Homo sapiens: one gene and its partners. The main gene of each other region encodes a partner of the protein of the gene in region 3 in a complex. Each region holds a gene or a part of one and is shown on either strand. Other genes may lie near its edges. The genes, in order: HRAS, INSR and GRB14.

Region 1 (6,972 bases), on a different chromosome or scaffold from region 3:
CACTGTCCTCCAGCCTGGGCAACAGAGCAAGACTCTGTCTCAAAAAAAAAAAAAAAAAAGGCTGGGTGCGGTGGCTCACACCTGTAATCCCAGCACTTTGGGAGGCTGAGGCGGGCAGATCACAAGATCAGGAGATCAAGACCATCCTGGCTAACGAGGTGAAACCCCATCTCTACTAAAGATACAAAAAACATAGTTAGCCAGGCGTGGTGGCGGACGCCTGTAGTCCCAGCTACTTGGGAGGCTGAGGCTGGGGAATGGCATGAACCCAGGAGGTGGAGCTTGCAGTGAGCCAAGATGGCACCACTGCACTCCAGCCTGGGCGACAGAGAGAGACTCCATCTCAAAAAACAAACAAACAAACAAAGATGCAGACATCTGCCTCGGCCCCAGGCCCTGGAATCATGAGCTCCAGGCGTGGAGTGACAAGTGTGCTCGGAGCGTCCAGTGTCCTCCTCCCTGACCACCTTCATGTGTCTTCAGTCTGGACCTGGACTGATCCCCTGACTGCACTCCCCACCCAGCCTTCCCAGATTTATCTTCCTGATGAGACGAGTTCCCTTCGGAGCCCTGTGTGTCTTACTACGTGTTCGGTTGAGGGCCTGCCTCGCCCCAGAGCTGTGGGCTGCACGTGGCCTGCACGTGGCCTGCGTGCTCCTCTGCTGTCCACAGTCGCAGGAGGGGATGCTCAAATATTTGTCGAAGGAATCCGTGAACAGGCAGATGCACATGTAGCCACTTAGAACGTTCTGGCCATGGCTTTTATCTGTTGACCACGTGTGGACACTGAAGATGCATCCTCTCCATCCCGTCTAGAGCTGCCCCTGTGCCAGGCGAGTTGGCCGGCTGTTGACAGAGGTGGTGGGTGGGAGTGTTGGAGCGGGGCAGTGGCTCAGGCTCTGGGTGCCTCACTGGCCTGGTCTGGAAGGTGACCATGCACCAAGGATCAAAGAAGTGAAGCCCAAAGCAGAATCTCATGGAGTTTCCAGCCCAAATCTCCCCCACTGCCTGCCTTTCTCCAGCCAGTGCAAGGCCCCAGGCCTCACAGCAGGACCCCAACACTGCATCCCCCCAAAGACTCTGGCCACCTCCATCCCAGGCCTGCCAGCCTCGAGCCTCATGGAGGGCGTGAGCTGGCGGGGTCACGGGCAGCCCCTGGACACCTATGGGTGACACTAAGGGCTGAGTCAGCTACCCTTGTCTCCTCTGTGCCCAAGAGCCCCAAGCATCAGACTGGTCTGAGCCCCAAGGCCTGGGGGTGCAAGGGGTTGGAGGCTGTGGGATCCAAAGACCCCATTGAACTCCCACCTCAGACACTGCACCTAGTGTTCTCACCCAGGCCTGAACCCATCCACACACTTCACGGCCCTGCTCCCACCCTGTGTCCCCTCTGCAAGCCCCCATGCTCCCCAAATTGGTAACTGGGGGGCCTGTCTCCACACCCCTGCTAGTGCCATTCCCTGGTGGGTAGCCATCACCTCTGGGTCCCCTGCTGCCCTCGCCCCTTCACCATGGGGGCTCGGAAGGCAGAGCCCGCTCCCCTCCTGAGCCCCACCCTGGAACCCTGAGCACCCTGGGTCATTGCCTCTGAGTCTCCCTCAGGGGCAGGGCTTGGGGCCCCTCCTGTCTCCTGACAGGGAGCCCTTTCAGTGCAGGGCCAGGGGGTGGTGGAGGCAAGGGTCCTCAGGGGACCAGATCTGACATGCGGGGCCATCACTGGGTCCCCGATGGCTGTGCTGCTTCGTCCCCGCGCCCACGCCTCGGCGCAGGTTCCCTCCTGGCACCGGTCATAGGGCGAGGCTTGCGGCTCCCACCCCAAGGGTGCGCTCGGCTCTCACCTGAGGGCTCAGCCTAGGTGTCCGGCCCTGGCAGCTCGGCCCTGGGCGCCCTCCACCTCCAGGCGCTGTCTCCTACTCCAGGCTGTTCTTCCGGCCGCCGCGGGGTTGCGGCCTGGGCGCCATAGCAACGGGAGCCAGGCCTCATTTGAATACGCAAATATTTATAAGTCGCCGGGGGCTCGGGTTCCGTGCGGCTGAGCCACGCCCCTTAGCAACGGTCGCTAGGGCGGGGCCACGTGGACTGGCACGTGCGTGGGCGCCCCTGCTGCGGGCGATCCCAGGGGAAGGTGACGCGCCACCAACTCGAGTTGGGTGGGCGCAGGCGCGTCAGGTGCCAGCTTCCTGCGGCTCCGTGCCTGGGCCGTCGCGATGCACGTGTCGCGTTTCCTCGCGATCCTGGCGCTTCCCACGCGGGGCGGGTAAAGGCGGTCTCTGCTGGAGGCTCGCGCCCACCTTTCCCAGGTGGAAGGGTCGCCCCTGGGGCCGAGGCCTGCCGTCCTGACCTTCGGTTGGAAGTGAGGCCGACGGCAAAAGGAAGCACCGGGGGAAGCGCCCCCGAGGACCAGGAAACACACACCGGACGCCGGAGCGCACCCGAGTGCCCGGCCCGCGGGACACGCTGCCGCCCGCCGTCCAGTCGCCGCTTCTCACTCGCGTTCATGCGTGTCCGCCCCGAGCCGAGCTCTGACTGCGACCGCGCGGTGGACGGACGGCAGGCGGGACCCCCGGGACCGCACGTGGGTGGAGCCCCGGGTCAGCAGCGACCGGCGCAGGAGGGCGAGGCGGGCGCTGGACTGGGCAGAGGCAGGGTTTGCCTGACTGTAAAACGCCTTTTTTGTTTTGAGACGAAGTAGCGCTCTGTTGCCCAGTGCAGTGGCGCGATTTCGGCTCACCGCAACATCCGCCTCCCGGGTTCCAGCGATTCTCCTGCCTCAGCCTCCCGAGTAGCTGGGACTACAGGCGCGCGCCACTGCAGCCGACTAATTTTTTGTGTTTTTAGTAGAGACAGGGTTTCATCATGTTGGCCAGGCTGGTCTTGAACTCCTGACCTCAAGTAATCCACCCGCTTAGGCCTCCCGAAGTGCTGGGATTATAGGCGTGAGCCACCGCGCCCGGCCCTTTTTGTTTTTTAATGAGGATGTATTTCTGATTCCTTTGCAATTTTAAAAAATGTTAAAAACATGTCTTTTTGGGTTTGAAAGAGCTAGGATGTGCGTCTATGTGCTTGGGGTGAGCCCTGGGCACTTCGCTCCCCTGTGGCAACTTGTGGGTACGGTTTAACTGGACCACGCTGAGCTTCTGCAGCGTTGGAACCTCAAGTTTGGGGGGACTGGGCGGGCAGGGTCGCCTGCCACGCAGGCCCGAGAAAGAGGAGAGTGGTGGAGGGGGCGTTCTCACGCCTGGCCCCAGGGCACACGGCTGCGCCCGCCGCCCGGAACCCCACCGGGGCTGCAAGCGTCCTCGGGGTGGGTTGCGGTGGGAGTAGGGGAGCTGGGGTGCGTGGTGGTAGGTGGGGTGCGCGGCCGCTCCACCTGCGCGGAAGGGCAGCCGGGCAACCGGACCCCGCGGCCACCCGGGGGCCCCCAGCTCCGAGCATCCCGCCTTGGTCCCGGCGGATCCCAGCCTTTCCCCAGCCCGTAGCCCCGGGACCTCCGCGGTGGGCGGCGCCGCGCTGCCGGCGCAGGGAGGGCCTCTGGTGCACCGGCACCGCTGAGTCGGGTTCTCTCGCCGGCCTGTTCCCGGGAGAGCCCGGGGCCCTGCTCGGAGATGCCGCCCCGGGCCCCCAGACACCGGCTCCCTGGCCTTCCTCGAGCAACCCCGAGCTCGGCTCCGGTCTCCAGCCAAGCCCAACCCCGAGAGGCCGCGGCCCTACTGGCTCCGCCTCCCGCGTTGCTCCCGGAAGCCCCGCCCGACCGCGGCTCCTGACAGACGGGCCGCTCAGCCAACCGGGGTGGGGCGGGGCCCGATGGCGCGCAGCCAATGGTAGGCCGCGCCTGGCAGACGGACGGGCGCGGGGCGGGGCGTGCGCAGGCCCGCCCGAGTCTCCGCCGCCCGTGCCCTGCGCCCGCAACCCGAGCCGCACCCGCCGCGGACGGAGCCCATGCGCGGGGCGAACCGCGCGCCCCCGCCCCCGCCCCGCCCCGGCCTCGGCCCCGGCCCTGGCCCCGGGGGCAGTCGCGCCTGTGAACGGTGAGTGCGGGCAGGGATCGGCCGGGCCGCGCGCCCTCCTCGCCCCCAGGCGGCAGCAATACGCGCGGCGCGGGCCGGGGGCGCGGGGCCGGCGGGCGTAAGCGGCGGCGGCGGCGGCGGCGGCGGGTGGGTGGGGCCGGGCGGGGCCCGCGGGCACAGGTGAGCGGGCGTCGGGGGCTGCGGCGGGCGGGGGCCCCTTCCTCCCTGGGGCCTGCGGGAATCCGGGCCCCACCCGTGGCCTCGCGCTGGGCACGGTCCCCACGCCGGCGTACCCGGGAGCCTCGGGCCCGGCGCCCTCACACCCGGGGGCGTCTGGGAGGAGGCGGCCGCGGCCACGGCACGCCCGGGCACCCCCGATTCAGCATCACAGGTCGCGGACCAGGCCGGGGGCCTCAGCCCCAGTGCCTTTTCCCTCTCCGGGTCTCCCGCGCCGCTTCTCGGCCCCTTCCTGTCGCTCAGTCCCTGCTTCCCAGGAGCTCCTCTGTCTTCTCCAGCTTTCTGTGGCTGAAAGATGCCCCCGGTTCCCCGCCGGGGGTGCGGGGCGCTGCCCGGGTCTGCCCTCCCCTCGGCGGCGCCTAGTACGCAGTAGGCGCTCAGCAAATACTTGTCGGAGGCACCAGCGCCGCGGGGCCTGCAGGCTGGCACTAGCCTGCCCGGGCACGCCGTGGCGCGCTCCGCCGTGGCCAGACCTGTTCTGGAGGACGGTAACCTCAGCCCTCGGGCGCCTCCCTTTAGCCTTTCTGCCGACCCAGCAGCTTCTAATTTGGGTGCGTGGTTGAGAGCGCTCAGCTGTCAGCCCTGCCTTTGAGGGCTGGGTCCCTTTTCCCATCACTGGGTCATTAAGAGCAAGTGGGGGCGAGGCGACAGCCCTCCCGCACGCTGGGTTGCAGCTGCACAGGTAGGCACGCTGCAGTCCTTGCTGCCTGGCGTTGGGGCCCAGGGACCGCTGTGGGTTTGCCCTTCAGATGGCCCTGCCAGCAGCTGCCCTGTGGGGCCTGGGGCTGGGCCTGGGCCTGGCTGAGCAGGGCCCTCCTTGGCAGGTGGGGCAGGAGACCCTGTAGGAGGACCCCGGGCCGCAGGCCCCTGAGGAGCGATGACGGAATATAAGCTGGTGGTGGTGGGCGCCGGCGGTGTGGGCAAGAGTGCGCTGACCATCCAGCTGATCCAGAACCATTTTGTGGACGAATACGACCCCACTATAGAGGTGAGCCTGGCGCCGCCGTCCAGGTGCCAGCAGCTGCTGCGGGCGAGCCCAGGACACAGCCAGGATAGGGCTGGCTGCAGCCCCTGGTCCCCTGCATGGTGCTGTGGCCCTGTCTCCTGCTTCCTCTAGAGGAGGGGAGTCCCTCGTCTCAGCACCCCAGGAGAGGAGGGGGCATGAGGGGCATGAGAGGTACCAGGGAGAGGCTGGCTGTGTGAACTCCCCCCACGGAAGGTCCTGAGGGGGTCCCTGAGCCCTGTCCTCCTGCAGGATTCCTACCGGAAGCAGGTGGTCATTGATGGGGAGACGTGCCTGTTGGACATCCTGGATACCGCCGGCCAGGAGGAGTACAGCGCCATGCGGGACCAGTACATGCGCACCGGGGAGGGCTTCCTGTGTGTGTTTGCCATCAACAACACCAAGTCTTTTGAGGACATCCACCAGTACAGGTGAACCCCGTGAGGCTGGCCCGGGAGCCCACGCCGCACAGGTGGGGCCAGGCCGGCTGCGTCCAGGCAGGGGCCTCCTGTCCTCTCTGCGCATGTCCTGGATGCCGCTGCGCCTGCAGCCCCCGTAGCCAGCTCTCGCTTTCCACCTCTCAGGGAGCAGATCAAACGGGTGAAGGACTCGGATGACGTGCCCATGGTGCTGGTGGGGAACAAGTGTGACCTGGCTGCACGCACTGTGGAATCTCGGCAGGCTCAGGACCTCGCCCGAAGCTACGGCATCCCCTACATCGAGACCTCGGCCAAGACCCGGCAGGTGAGGCAGCTCTCCACCCCACAGCTAGCCAGGGACCCGCCCCGCCCCGCCCCAGCCAGGGAGCAGCACTCACTGACCCTCTCCCTTGACACAGGGCAGCCGCTCTGGCTCTAGCTCCAGCTCCGGGACCCTCTGGGACCCCCCGGGACCCATGTGACCCAGCGGCCCCTCGCGCTGTAAGTCTCCCGGGACGGCAGGGCAGTGAGGGAGGCGAGGGCCGGGGTCTGGGCTCACGCCCTGCAGTCCTGGGCCGACACAGCTCCGGGGAAGGCGGAGGTCCTTGGGGAGAGCTGCCCTGAGCCAGGCCGGAGCGGTGACCCTGGGGCCCGGCCCCTCTTGTCCCCAGAGTGTCCCACGGGCACCTGTTGGTTCTGAGTCTTAGTGGGGCTACTGGGGACACGGGCCGTAGCTGAGTCGAGAGCTGGGTGCAGGGTGGTCAAACCCTGGCCAGACCTGGAGTTCAGGAGGGCCCCGGGCCACCCTGACCTTTGAGGGGCTGCTGTAGCATGATGCGGGTGGCCCTGGGCACTTCGAGATGGCCAGAGTCCAGCTTCCCGTGTGTGTGGTGGGCCTGGGGAAGTGGCTGGTGGAGTCGGGAGCTTCGGGCCAGGCAAGGCTTGATCCCACAGCAGGGAGCCCCTCACCCAGGCAGGCGGCCACAGGCCGGTCCCTCCTGATCCCATCCCTCCTTTCCCAGGGAGTGGAGGATGCCTTCTACACGTTGGTGCGTGAGATCCGGCAGCACAAGCTGCGGAAGCTGAACCCTCCTGATGAGAGTGGCCCCGGCTGCATGAGCTGCAAGTGTGTGCTCTCCTGACGCAGGTGAGGGGGACTCCCAGGGCGGCCGCCACGCCCACCGGATGACCCCGGCTCCCCGCCCCTGCCGGTCTCCTGGCCTGCGGTCAGCAGCCTCCCTTGTGCCCCGCCCAGCACAAGCTCAGGACATGGAGGTGCCGGATGCAGGAAGGAGGTGCAGACGGA
Region 2 (7,105 bases), on a different chromosome or scaffold from region 3:
GAAGCCAACCTCGGCCTCATTGAAGAAATTTCAGGGTATCTAAAAATCCGCCGATCCTACGCTCTGGTGTCACTTTCCTTCTTCCGGAAGTTACGTCTGATTCGAGGAGAGACCTTGGAAATTGGGTACGTGGGCCTGATTGTGTGTATGGCCTGAGTGCTAACTAGGAAGTTCGTGTATTAGAACAACTTAAGGATTTTTTTGGCCAGGTGTGGTGGCTGATGCCTGTAATCCCAGCATTTTAGGAGGCCAACGTGGGTGAATCACTTGAGGCGGGGAGTTCAAGACCAGCCTGGCCAACATGGTGAAACCCTGTCTCTACTAAAAGTACAAAAATTAGCCAAGTGTGATAGTGCATGCCTGTAATCCCAGCTACTTGGGAGGCTGAGGCAGGAGAATAGCTTGAACCTGGGAGGCAGAGGTTGCAGTGAGCCAAGATCACACTACTGCACTCCAGCCTGGGTGACAGAGTGAGACTCTGTCCAAAAAAAAAAAAAGAAAAGAAAAGGAAAAACTTAAGGATTTTTTAAAAATCAAATAAAAACAAATAAAAAACAAATAAAAGTATATCTGGCAAAACCTCGGGAAAAAAGAACTTGGAATGTGCCTAAAGGTCCATCCAGCCAAAAATTGTAAAAGCTTTTTTATAGTCATTCTTGAGAAACAAAAGTGGGAGCAGCCCAACCTTGGTGCCCATCCTCCAAGGGTACAGGCTGGAATTTTTGCTAAATTTGCTGTTTGGGCTGCATTGTGAGTAGAGTTTGGCATGCATAAAATGAACATTCCCTCTTAGTCCCGGTTGTCCATCCTAATTTCTGGGATGGACTCCATCTCAGTATATTCCAGTATATTCCAACCTTCTCCTTGAGGTCCTAGAAACTCTATTAGCAAAACAGCAGAAACTCAAACTAGCTAGATCAAGATTGACTCATAGGCAGGAGGTCTGTGGAAGACCCAGATTCTTTCCATCTTTGTGCTCCTCATGGTCACAAGATGGCTGCCTCAGCCCCAGCCTCACATCTGTAGAACAGACAGCAAATGGGGAAAGGGACAAAAGGACATGTTAATCAACATGAGCTGGTAAGTGACTTGAGAAGGTGGTCTAAACAATATAGTTTAGACTATATTATCTGTACTCCAGCCTAGGCACCAGAGTGAGAATCCATCTCAATAAAACAAACAAACAAACAAACAAAAACCTTCAATGGCTCCTTTCTCCTTATTAAGGATGGCCACATGTTCTTGGTCTTGGTCTGGCATGCAATATACTAGAGGGTCTGGTCCATTGCAACTACAGCTATTTCCTGTCACCTATTGGCCAAAACAGGCTACTTTGCTCTTCCCTGAACTCAGCTTAGGTGCCTCTGTGTTATCAGTATTTCCCCTATTTGCAGAAATTGGTTTCTGCAAAACCTATTCCTCAGTCCATCACAGACTCACCACCCCTCTTCAAGACTGAGCTGAGCCTCCTTCCTGGCCATGAAAACTTCCTCAACTTCCTCTGTTATCCACATTCAACAAATATGTGTTGAGTATGTGCCAAGCAAGTGGAGAGGATTAGGCACGTAGCACTGAACAAGATCAACTCCGAGCATGGCCACACCATCTTGGAGTTGTAGAAGACCAGCCGTTGAATGACTAGATGTGTGTGTTTTTTCCATAGGAACTACTCCTTCTATGCCTTGGACAACCAGAACCTAAGGCAGCTCTGGGACTGGAGCAAACACAACCTCACCATCACTCAGGGGAAACTCTTCTTCCACTATAACCCCAAACTCTGCTTGTCAGAAATCCACAAGATGGAAGAAGTTTCAGGAACCAAGGGGCGCCAGGAGAGAAACGACATTGCCCTGAAGACCAATGGGGACCAGGCATCCTGTAAGTCACTGGTCCCCAACCTTTTTGGCATGAGGGACCGGTGTAGTGGAAGATGGTTTTTCCATGGACTGGTGGTGGGTGGGGATGGTTTCAGCATGATTCAAGTGCATTACATTTACTATGCACTTTATTCCTATTATGATTACATTGTAATATATAATGAAAGAATTGTACAACTCACCATCATGTAGAATCAATGGGAACCCTGAGCTTGTGTTCCTGCAACTAGATGGTCCCAGCTGGGGGTGATGGGAGACAGTGACAGATCATCAGGCATTAGATTTTCATAAGGAGTGTGCAGTCTAGGTACCTCATGTACACAGTTCACAATAGGGTTCACACCCCTGTGAGAATCTAATGCCGCCGCTAATCTGACAGGAGGCAGAACTCAGGTGGTCATGCAAGCGATGGGGAGTGACTGTAAATACAGATGAAGCTTCACTTGCTCACCTATCACTCACCTCCTGCTGTACAGCCCTGTTCGTAACAGGCCATGGATAAGTACTGGTCTGTGGCCCAGGGGCTGGGGACCCCTGCTGTAAGTGGTCCACAAACCAGATAATGTGGCTGTCCTCTCTCATCCATCACAGTCACCCCCAGGGGGTATTACTTCCCTCTAACAACTCACTGTGTGATAGGCTTTCTTACTGAGGGCAGATTCTGCACATTTATTAATATTATCACTATGCTTACTGTGCCATATAGTACCGGATACGGGATGAAGTCATACAAGCACTGAATGAATGGATGAATGAATGATGGATGAATGGATGACACCTTCTTATATGTGTATCAGGCTGATGCTGAAGACTTCAAAGTTGAGTAAAATACCTATGTCAGTCTGCATCTCCTGGGAAGTGACTGCCAAGTTGAAGTTAGGAGTGCAGAAAATGTATTGAGGGTAATATTCATAAAATATGAAACAGAGGAAGAGCTTCTTTTTTTTTTTTTTTTTTTTTTGGGACAGAGTCTTGCTCTGTCACCCAGGGCTGGAGTGCAGTGGCGTGATCTTGCCTCACTGCAACCTCCTTCCCCTGGGTTCAGGTAATTATCTCGCCTCAGCCTCCAGAATAGCTGGGATTACAGGCACATGCCACCAAGCCCGGCTAATTTTTTTTTTTGTATTTTTAGTAGAGACAGGGTTTTGCCATGTTGGCCAGGGTGGTCTTGAACTCCTGACCTCAGGTGATCCTCCCGCCTCGGCCTCCCAAAGTGCTGAGATTACAGGTGTGAGTCACCACGCTCAGCCATGAAGAGCCTTTTGACAATAGCGTGTGTCTGACCTCTGTGAACAGAGAGCGGGAAGGAGGGAGGATAGGGCTGGGAGAGTCTCAGATGGTGATGCATCCCTGAGTCTTGGCCAAACCCAGAAAGAGATCAAGGCCACGGTTGTCTGCAGGGAAGTTCTGCATTGCAAAGGGACGGCCAGGCATCTACCAAGCTCAGTCATAGGTGGGGGCTGTCCAGGGAGAGTCAGGTTTTGGCTGGAATGCTACAGCAGGTCCTGCAGTTTCTGCAGCTGCAGGCTGCCTGCTGACTGCACTTCCCTGACAGATTCTAAACAGTGAGCTGCCAAGGGCTTCTGGGATACCTTCATGGGGAGTTAGTTACTTATGTCAAAATGTAGTGCAAGGGCTGGGCATGGTGGCTCACGCCTGGAATCCCAGCACTCTGGGAGGCCGAGGCAGGCAGATCACTTGAGGTCAGGAGTTCGAGACCAGCCTGGCCAATGTGGTGAAACTCCATCTCTACTAAAAAAAAAAAATACAAAAACTAGCTGGACGTGGTGGTGGGTGCCTGTAATCCCAGCTACTTGAGAGGCTGAGGCATGAGAATTGCTTAAACCCGGTAGGTGGACTGCACTCCAGCCTTGGTGACAGAGCAAGACTGTCTCAAAAAAAATGTAGTGCAAGGAGAGAGAGCGAGGTTGGGGTGAGGTTTAGGAGAGGGTTTGTCTTCTAGGCAGAGAGAATTACTTAGATGCGTCTCTCCGATGTCTAATGATCTGCAGGGTCTCTAAACTCACTTGGCATAGGTTTATTTGCACTGGAGTTGCACCTCCTTCCAGGTCAGTCTTACAAGTCCATATGCGAGACAACGTTGTGTCAGGACAAACATCACCCTTGGAAATCCCTTCCTCCAATAACTATTGGCCGGTTGTCCTTCTTGCGCGGGTACAGACTGCGCTTATTCAGTTGACTGTCTGGCTGAGTCAAGTCATTGGCTTACGTGAGTGTGAGTGGCCAAGTTGCAAAACTGGCTCTTACCTTTGAATCTTCCCCCATTCATACTCAGCCAGGCACATGGGGAGGAGACCCTTAAGGGAATAGCAGCGTCACCTCTGCCTTCTCACGGTCCCTCCAGGAAGTGTGGGGGTCCCAGGCTTTGGTCTGAAACTACACTGAAATAGCTCATTTTTGCCTTTTGTTTTAACTTTTCCAGGTGAAAATGAGTTACTTAAATTTTCTTACATTCGGACATCTTTTGACAAGATCTTGCTGAGATGGGAGCCGTACTGGCCCCCCGACTTCCGAGACCTCTTGGGGTTCATGCTGTTCTACAAAGAGGCGTAAGTAGAAGAGTTAGAGAGACGCTGAGGAGGCGAGGGCTGGCTGGCTCTGTGCTTGCTACGTTTGTGCTCCAATCTGCCCCTCTTGGGTTCCTGTCTATCTCCCTCCTCCTCCTGGAATAAATATCTTAGGTTCCTTTTTACAATCTCACCAGTCGATGGCATGCAAAGTCAATAGTGTCTGCTTTTATCAAATGCCTAAAATGGAAGCAGACAGCTTTCCCATAGAAGCCCGGACTGGCCAGTTTCCTGGGGCAATATTCTATTTTGCCTTGCCTGTGTATGTCTCATCAGACATCCTTAGTAGTCAGGAGCTCAGTCTACTAAGTGGATGTTATCAAATGTATTGCTTATCTATTTTTCTTTTTTATCCCCAATTTTTTTTTTTTTTTTGAGACAGAGTCTTGCTCTGTTGCCCAGGGTACAGTGCAGTGGCAGATCTTGGCTCACTGCAACCTCTGCCTCCCGGGTTCAAGCAGTTCTCCTGCCTCAGTCTCTTGAGTAGCTGAGATTATGGGCATACACCATCACACGTAGCTAATTTGTGTATTTTTGATAGAGACGGGTTTTGCCATGTTGGCCAGGCTGGTCTCAAACTCCTGACCTCAGGTGATCTGCCCACCTTGGCCTCCCAAAGTGCTGGGATTACAGGCATGAGCCACCGCACCTGACCAGTAGTAATATTAATAATAGTTCTAGCCCTCAAGATTTACCTTGTGCCTTGCTGAGCACTGACACACAGTCTAATCTTATCAGTAACTTGTGAGGGAGCTCCTGCTATTACTATTATTACAGATTGAGTATCCCTAATCTGAAAATCTGAAATTTATAATGCTCCAAAATCCAAAGCTTTTTGTGGGCCGACTTGATACTCAAAGGAGATGCTTATTGGAGCATTTCAGATTTCAGATTTTTAGATTAGAGATGCTGAACCAGTACAATGCAAATTAACTAGTAAAATGCAAATATTTCAAAACCCCAAAATATCCAAAATCCAAAACACTTCTGGTCCCAAGCATTTATTTATTTATTTATTTATTTATGTTTTTGAAACAGAGTCTCCCTTTGTCGCCCAGGCTGGAGTGCAGTGGTGCGATCTCAGCTGATGCTACCTCTGCCTCCCGGGTTCAAGCAATTCTCCTGCCTCAACCTCCTGAATAGCTGGGATTACAAGCATCTGCCACCATGCCCAGATAATTTTTGTATTTTTAGTAGAGACGGGGTTTCACCATGTTGGCCAGGCTGGTCTCGAACTCCTGACTTCTGGTGATCCGCCATTCTCGGCCTCCCAAAGTGCTGGGATTACAGGCGTGAGCCACTGCACTTGGCCAAGTCTCAAGTGTTTTGAATAAGGGATGCCCAAGCTGTGTTTTTTCATTGAGATGTCAGGGTTGACAGTTCCTTTCTCTTTGGCTGTTCCCGAGTTATTTTTTCTTGTGGCATTAGATTGTTGGGTGAGTAACATGTGACCCTATGGGATGTAACTTCCCAGGCCTCATCTGCACGGCACTCAGTGTGACGGTCTTGTAAGGGTAACTGCCTTCTGCTGTTTTGTCTTGAAAGCCCTTATCAGAATGTGACGGAGTTCGACGGGCAGGATGCGTGTGGTTCCAACAGTTGGACGGTGGTAGACATTGACCCACCCCTGAGGTCCAACGACCCCAAATCACAGAACCACCCAGGGTGGCTGATGCGGGGTCTCAAGCCCTGGACCCAGTATGCCATCTTTGTGAAGACCCTGGTCACCTTTTCGGATGAACGCCGGACCTATGGGGCCAAGAGTGACATCATTTATGTCCAGACAGATGCCACCAGTGAGTGTGTCTTGGGAATGTGAATTCGTATGTGAATCAGACCTCTTGCTTTTAATAGGCTGATGCAGTGAGGTTGTATAAAATGCTCCTTGATATGGTTATTGGCTTTTTTTTTTTTTTTAGACAGGGTCTTACTTTGTCACCCAGGCTAGAGTGCAATGCAGTGGGGTGATCATGGCTCACTGCAGCCTCAAACTCCTGGGCTCAAGCAATCCTTCTGCCTCAGCCTCCTAAGTAGAAGGAACTACCAGAGTATACCACCATGTGTGGCTTTTTTTTTTTTTTTTCTTTGAGATGAAGTCTCACTCTGTCACCCGGACTGGAGTGCAATGGCATGATCTCGGCTCACTGCAACCTCCGCCTCCCAGGTTCAAGTAATTCTCCCACCTCAGCCTCCTGAGTAGCTGGGACTACAGGCATGCACCACTATACCCAGCTAATTTTTGTATTTCTTGTAGAGACAGAACGTTGCTGTGTTACCCAGGCTGGTCTTGAACCCCTGGCCTCAAGTGATCCTCCTGCCTCGGCCTCCCAAAGTCCTGGGATTAGAAGTGTGAGCCACCTTGCCCAGTCAGTTATTGGCTTTTAAAGGAGCTGGGTATTGAGGCTTATAGTTTCAGACGAGGCAGTAGCAACAAGCCACTTGATGGGAATATTTATATTTTTCATCCTATTATGAAAAATTGTCAAATATTCACAACACAGAACAAAACCCCATAGTTAGCCGCCTCCCAGCTTCAGCCTTTGGTCATTTTTGTTTCATCTCGACGCCTGTTCCCTCTTCCCACTTGTTACTTCTTTTTGTTTTGTTGTTTGTTTTGGCCTGGAGTATTTCACAGCAATT
Region 3 (7,105 bases):
ATAAATTTTTCTAGAAGCAGAACTATGTTCTGAATTGGCATCTTTGAAAGGGGGAATAAACCCTTAAGTGGGTGGGACTGTAACTTTGTTTGGGGAGACAAAGAGGAGACTCTCTTGAGACCTTTATTATCAGGATGAGGTTTAAAGTCAGATCCCAAGGAAAAAACAGCCCTAGTGAAACTTCCAAGCTCTTTGAGAGTTGACTTTTTGGTTTGGATAGAAAATGGAAGTAAGGATAATAGATTTGACTGTGTGCCATGGTAGTGGAAAAAAAAAAAAGAGGCCGGGTGCGGTGGCTCACGCCTGTAATCCCAGTAATCCCAGCACTTTGGGAGGCTGAGGCGGGCAGATCACGAAGTCTGAAGATTGAGACCATCCTGTCCAACATGGTAAAACCCCGTCTCCACTAAAAATACAAAAATTAGCTGGGTGTGGTGGCCTGCACCTGTAGTCCCAGCTACTCGGGAGGCGGAGGCAGGAGAATCGCTTGAACCCAGGAGGCGGAGGCTGCAGTGAGCTGAGATTGTGCCCCTGCACTCCACTCTGAACGACAGAGCGAGAATCTGTCCCCCGCTGACACTACCCCCCCCCCCCCAAAAAAAAGATTCTGGCTTGTCCTTGAGCCAGAGTAAGAAAAGGAAATGTCTGATGATGACATAATGGTCATCTGGAAGAATTTAATAGGTAGTTCCCAAATTACTAAGGGCCTGCTATGTTTCTCACAAATCCTAGGCAGTAAGGACCCTAGCTAAGCAACAATACCATGCAAGATATATTTAAAAGATGGGGCTTTGATTTGGGGTTGTGGTAGCGGGTGGAGCCTGAACCAGAAGGAAAGTAAAGGGAAGGATATCTGGGCTGACTCACTTTAATGCTATGAATGGACACTTGCAGAATGCCTGTGTCTGAGAGATTTGTTGATGATGCAGGGTTTGTTTTGAATAGAAAGTGAGAAGAGGTGTTGGTATGCTTATGTTAGTATAGGGGACAAAAGAGAAAGAATGGGTAAAGTGCCAGGGTTAAGGCAGGATGTGCCCTAAGTGTGGATAGTCATCAGACTAGAGTAAGACGTCTTAGAGATTGATGACATTTCCTCAGATCAGGTTTAAACTGGAAAATGGGCAAAAAAAAAATAGCAAACTGGAAATGGGGAAAAGGTGATATTGTTATTGACCCCAATAGGTTTCCTGCTCTGGCCTTGTATCCTGTGTCCACAATGACCTTCTCAAAGAACACTGTACCCACACACACACCTGTACTGTTCCCTGAGCAGAGAGTCCCCGCCTGATTTTTAAAGATCCATCCCAGAGGGCTGTCCCTACCTTTGAAGGGCCCTTCTTGCTGATCTCTTCCTTGGCCCAATGGTTGAGATCTCTATGAAGACAAGGGTACCCCAAAGTTGAGGAGGAGGGAGGCTGCTTTTTACTTTATTTTATGCTTCCTTTTTCCCCCACCTAGACTTTGCATTTAGAACTGATCCTTTTGCTTTAGTTTCTTTATACACACTCAGTTCTTTGAAATGAGGAAGGTTTTGAGAATAGATGACTCTATGTAAGTGAGTCCCCCAACTCAGTAGCTTTGCAACACATATTACCCTTTTACAAGATGCTGTTTTTGGCCCAGTTTATCTGTAACCTTCAGTTGAGATGATGTAAGTGACTATGCGATATGTTCTACTGAGTATTATTTATGGTTGAAATATTATAGGAGAAGATGTCTCTTTACTTTATATTCTCTCTCATTTGTCCTGTTTAACCATTCCAGTCATTTTAGTGATTCTTTTCTCTCCACAGAAAAAGTGAAGAAAATAATTGTACTTGTTATTTACAAATCAATGACCAGAAAATTTGAGAGAATCCAGACTAAAAATGTTAAATTTCATCTGGCCTTTCAAAATCACAGTCAAAAACCATCTTACAAGTCATAAATTTTGTTTACTATTTGAGATGCCTACATAATGCATGAGTGGTAAAGTGCATTGAAGCCACAAATGGGATATGTTTTATCACTTTTTGCAAATAAAATGTCCCAAAGTGTACAATACTGTAGGCTTTCAGTACCATTATTTTTAAATGAAAGCTAGAGTGAGAGAGAATCCATATTCTTTTTTTTTTTTTTTTTTTTTTTTTGAGACGGAGTCTCGCTCTGTCGCCCAGGCTGGAGTGCAGTGGCACAATCTCGGCTTACTGCAAGCTCTGCCTCCTGGGTTCATGCCATTCTCCTGCCTCAGCCTCCCGAGTAGCTGGGACTAGAGGTGCCTGCCACCACGCCCAGCTAATTTTTTTTGTATTTTTAGTAGAGACAGGGTTTTACCGTGTTAGCCAGGATGATCTCCATCTCCTGACCTCATGATCCACCCGCCTTGGCCTCCCAAAGTGCTGGGATTACAGGCATGAGCCCCTGTGCCCCGCGAGAATTCATATTCTTTATTCCCTTTCCCTCTTTTTATAATGATGGCCAGATTTCCTAGGCATCTTTCTTTGTGTTTACTAATAAAGCAAATTTAAAGTATACCTTCCCTTACATACATGGTCCAGAAAAGTTACTTATATTAAAAGTGACTTCCATTATGAACTTAATCTCTTTTTTCTAATTTATGATTTAAATTTATAAGGAAATCATCTGTTAGTAATGAACCCTAAACACCTATTGTTTGAAGGAAAGCAAAGAGTTAGAAATCTTTATTTAGCTCTTGCAGCAGAATCAGTTCTTGTCTTTTTTGTTGACCCCTAGGTAATTTTTGTGCTTGGACATAGCCTGTGTAGTAGCTCTGGTTAATTGCTTCCCAGGACTATGTTGTACAACTAAGTAAGAATAAAGCCTCTGAAGGCTTTAGAGATTTAAAAAATGCTATGAAAACCAGTGTCATGAAATGTTTGAGTTGGATGGGATTTTTCAGATCTTCTATTCCAATATTCTTCTTTAGTGATACGTAAATTGAGTTTAAGGAATGCTATGTGGCACAGCCAGCACCTGAAATCTGGATTTCTTGAGGCTTTGACAGTCCCTTTTTAGGAAGGTACAATTTCTAAAGAAAGCAAGGACTGTAAATAAGAGTAGTATAATAATACATGTGTACCAGTGTTGTTAGTTACAACTCTCCTCATAACACAAGAAGAACAGGGGAGACAAACGCCATTTGTTAATATTCATCTAAGGACCTGGAATTCCTCTTTTTATTTCTTCCCGAAATGTAACTACGTTTTTTCTTCTAGCTTTCTTCTCCATCTTCTCCCTAAAATTGGTCTGAGAAATCTATCAAATATTTGATTTTATTATCAAATAAGATTTATTAGTATTATTAATAACCAGCTTTTGTGTGTGGTTTACGGTCCACAGGATATTATTTCATGGGAACACAAGAAAATGAGTATGTCACCTGCATTTTAAGATTACAAAAAGAGTATGCAAAAACTGGAAGGGATTTGCCCATGCTTCCACAGTTTAAATAAAGGGAGATCAAAAAGAGTATCATGTCTCAATGTGTCCTGTCCCTTACCACACTGTTTCTAGTGTATTCTTTATTAAATTAAGCCTTTTTTTGTATGTCTCAGAAAAATAAAAATTTATCTCAAATAATTAAAAAATTAGTTTTCCATATGCTCGGCCTTTTATTTCTTTTTTCTCTACCATGTCACGGACTTTCAAAGGATAAGCAGATCTCTGTCCCCAAATTAAAGGGCCTCTTATATCATTCCTTTGTGATGCCAGTAATTACCCCACTTTGGACATGCTGAACTTGTATGTGTGGTCCTATAGGAATCTTGTGTGGCTGCTACATTAACTGAAATTTCATATACTTATTTTTCTAGTATACATAGAAGTAAAAGAAGAGAAACCCATGTACATATTGTAGTTTTTCCAGACTCAGCAATTATCAAGATTTTGCCTCATTTACTCCATCTATTTCTTTTTTAAAAATTTTATTTTCTTTGCTAAAGTATTTTGAAGTATATCCTGGACACCCCATCATTGCATCTCTACGTAGTTTTGTATTCATCTCTGAAAAATGAATTTTCTTTTATATCCCAAATGCCATTATTCCCTAACATAAATAACAGCAATTCCTTGATATCGTCTAAAACCATTCATAATTGAATTTTCTCAGTTGGAATGGCTCATGAAATTCTCAAATTACAAACTGCTTAGCTTTCAAATGTCTGAAAATTAGCTCTTTGGAAGTTTAAATTCATTTTTAGATGGAAACAACATCATAAATTGTATTTAGGCCCTCTGAGCTATTTTACAAAATCCCATTTAATTGGAAACAAAACATATATGCAGAAAGAATGATAGAAACAATACTCTCTCCTATTAGGGTTTCAAACAAATCTATCTTTCCAACGGCAATTTGCTACTTTTGAGTGCTGTCACTTGATGAATATAATTTTTTGGGAGAATTTGAAAGCGTGCAGATCTTTGTAGCAGTGTTGAAGCAGGCTTTACAGCTGCGCTTCTCAAAGTGTGGTCATTAAATCACCTTCTTCAGAATCAGCAGGGATGCTTATTAAAAATATGGATACTTGGACCTCTTGCAAAACCCACTGAATAGGAATGTTCTGGGGGAGGTTATAGGAATTTGATTTTTTATATTTTTTTCTCTTTGATATGTATACAAATCAGTGCTACTCTTAATCTCTACCATTTTCAAACTGGGGCAATTGGACCTTTCAAAACTGAGGACAGTTGTGTTTTGTTGACAAAGGTGAGTATGTTACAAATGGCCTTTAGTTGGTATTTTAGCCAGGTATTGATTGTTCAGACAAAACAGAGCCTCAAATGAACCAGCCTGAAAGGCTGTGTTGTAGTACCTGAAGGCCAAAAGGTCACTGGTCTCATGAGAGGCTGAAATTGGGAGCAAGAAAGTCAGCAAAAATCAAGTCAACCACTTTCTCTATTCTCTCTCTTTTGTTCTCCCACAAACATACCACATAGTCTCTGCCTCTCCTTGCAAATTCACATCATTTTTGAGATTTCTTTGCAGTGTTGCTTGCCCTGATTTCATGTCAGTGCCAGCGGCCTCAAGTGGCTGCTCCCAAGTTTTCCACCTATTAGTGGTTCAGTACTTGGTAACTGACTGGGAACTGTATCTGGAGAGGTATGTTAGTCCAGTGTGTCCAGATCCTATTCAATCAGATGTGGCCAAGGGGACAGTGGGCCCTGGACCACTGTTCAGTCTGCAAGGGTGTGGTAACATGTGAGAAAGAGGTACAGGTTTAGTAGGTATGGCATATGGAGGCACTATGTCCTAGGGGCAGCTAGTGTCCTAGGGGAAAAAAAAGATCTCAAACAGGACACAAAAACTAATTCTAATCATATTTGTATGATATATGATGATCCACCAATTGGTTTATTTGACTTAACGTACCCAGTTCAGAGTGTTCAGCTCCTTTGTCTCAATTCACTTAATGTACGTGAAGCATACTTATTGGGCAGTTGTTTCAGTTGATGTCACCCTTCAGGGATGCTCAGCTTCCTTGTCCATTTTCCTGAGCTTACGTCTTACTGAGGTCCCTTAACCCCTGATGACAGGAATTACCAACTCAGGTTCCTTCCCACCTTATGCTAGTTACCTTCATTGTAGGAGAAGTTAGCTTTCTTTTCCTATTTTAAAACTTAAATCCCCTAGCAGATCTTCTATTTGTCAAGGTTTTATTTCTAGTTTGAAGGTTGCCTTTAATTTTTGGTTAATTTGCAGGGTACATTTGCAGTCCAAGCTTTATCTACAATATGGGTTTTCTTTTTAACGTTATTGAAATCTCAGCTTCTGGTTTGTTTTTCCCTGGGGCATATAATATGTTCTGTCAAGAGAAAGAAAATTGGAGTCATCATGGTTCAATATAAGTGTGGATTTTAATTAATATAAAAAAGATTTCTGCAGTCTTATGGATATTGCTTTGAAAAAACGTCAGCTTATGTCAAATAGTAATAAACTCTATTGTATAAGTATATGCTTATGTGTATTTCAATGGTGGTAAGCAGACCTGAGAATTGTCCTTTTGACATTACAGATAAAGGTCAGCTCAAGGGAGACCCCAGAGAATGGCCACAAGTCTTTGCCAAGGCAAGGGAGTAGAAAGAAAGGGTTCAGGATTAATTTAGAAGAGAAATGGCAGGACTGACATAGGGAGACCATCCTTTAATTCTTGTCCTTTTCTTTGGCCCACTCATTTAACATTTTTTCAAAGCCACAGAAAAAATAAACACAAATAGGAGGTTTAATATTCTTAACCAGCTTACAAATGCTTGTATTCCAGAAGATCTTTAATAAATTGGCCATTTATTCACATACATTTTTCCATAGACGTATTGTTACATGCAGTGGTTAGGTGGTCAGGCCAAAGCCTTAAAATCCATAATGGCTCCAAAGTATAGTGCTCTTACAACATTGCGTGTACCGTTTTTAAAATTGCTTCTGTGGAAAGATGTGTCAATATGATGTGACTGAAAGATATTGGAACAGGAATCAGCAAACCTAGTTTTTAATACAGTCCTACTACAGATGAGGGGTGTTATATCAGCCCATTGCTCACCCTTTCTGTACCTGAGAGCTCTACAATTTTATTGTATTCCTAGAGCAAGTGATTCTGATGGCTCCAGAAGCAGTAATGGCTCCTGTGCAGCAGATACAGGAGTCGTGGAAAGCAGGGTTTCTTTTGTTCCACTAGCCCTAGAAGCTCCCTCTTAGCCTCTGTTCAGGTATTCCCATATAGTGACCACACTTTTTTGTGATAAAGAGTATGTTTGGGGTGTCATAGGACAAAGAGCACAGGAGTCACATTCATGGAAATAATTGGGGCAGAAGGGTCTGGTTAAACTAGAAACTGCAGCAAAGTCATAGTTCAAATATTAGAAGAAGAATCAGAAAAGGAATCACATCTAGTAGGAGCCAGCTCAAGTGGTGAAGTTAAAGTACAGGACCAAGCATCTAAACTTAGAAATAAGGATACGAGATAAGATGTGACCACTTGAGGCCGGCATAGGTCCAATACACATTTGGCTCTACTTGGTTTAATAGGTACGGGGTGGTCGTAACCTCTGAATTCTCTAAATTTATCTTTCTCCACCCTCAAATCATTTATTTGATTACTTAAGCCAAAATTTA

What was found.
Region 1: the proteins of GRB14 (region 3) and HRAS are in contact, whole or in part, in a crystal structure (PDB 4K81), measured with the Homo sapiens proteins. Residues at the interface, in NP_004481.2 of Homo sapiens: Val109, Lys111, Asp116, Glu117, Thr118, Ser119, Arg120, Ala121, Leu122, Asp123, Lys140, His142; in NP_001123914.1 of Homo sapiens: Glu31, Asp33, Pro34, Ile36, Glu37, Asp38, Ser39, Tyr40, Arg41, Tyr64, Met67.
Region 2: the proteins of GRB14 (region 3) and INSR are in contact, whole or in part, in a crystal structure (PDB 2AUH), measured with the Homo sapiens proteins. Residues at the interface, in NP_004481.2 of Homo sapiens: Glu373, Asn374, Ser375, Leu376, Val377, Ala378, Met379, Asp380, Phe381, Ser382, Ser386, Val388, Ile389, Glu394, Val398, Ala399, Glu401, Glu402, Gly403, Leu404, Trp406, Arg407; in NP_000199.2 of Homo sapiens: Leu1065, Arg1066, Ile1069, Glu1070, Lys1112, Arg1116, Arg1163, Met1180, Arg1182, Tyr1190, Lys1192, Gly1193, Gly1194, Lys1195, Gly1196, Leu1197, Leu1198, Pro1199, Val1200, Trp1202, Ser1207, Leu1208, Lys1209, Asp1210, Gly1211, Gln1235, Asn1242, Glu1243, Leu1246.

What each region holds. Positions count from the first base shown.
Region 1 is NC_000011.10:532,472-539,443, reverse strand, and holds the start of HRAS (GTPase HRas), read left to right. Parts: upstream 1-3,867; 5' UTR 3,868-4,028; intron 4,029-5,068; 5' UTR 5,069-5,121; coding exon 5,122-5,232; intron 5,233-5,499; coding exon 5,500-5,678; intron 5,679-5,831; coding exon 5,832-5,991; intron 5,992-6,085; coding exon of another isoform or gene 6,086-6,167; intron 6,168-6,688; coding exon 6,689-6,808; 3' UTR 6,809-6,813; exon of another isoform or gene 6,814-6,921; 3' UTR 6,922-6,972. UniProt on the Homo sapiens protein: Involved in the activation of Ras protein signal transduction. Ras proteins bind GDP/GTP and possess intrinsic GTPase activity.
Region 2 is NC_000019.10:7,165,310-7,172,414, reverse strand, and holds part of INSR (insulin receptor isoform Long preproprotein), read left to right. Parts: coding exon 1-125; intron 126-1,663; coding exon 1,664-1,878; intron 1,879-4,320; coding exon 4,321-4,447; intron 4,448-6,010; coding exon 6,011-6,261; intron 6,262-7,105. UniProt on the Homo sapiens protein: Receptor tyrosine kinase which mediates the pleiotropic actions of insulin.
Region 3 is NC_000002.12:164,611,450-164,618,554, reverse strand, and holds part of GRB14 (growth factor receptor-bound protein 14), read left to right. Parts: intron 1-7,105. UniProt on the Homo sapiens protein: Adapter protein which modulates coupling of cell surface receptor kinases with specific signaling pathways. Binds to, and suppresses signals from, the activated insulin receptor (INSR). Potent inhibitor of insulin-stimulated MAPK3 phosphorylation.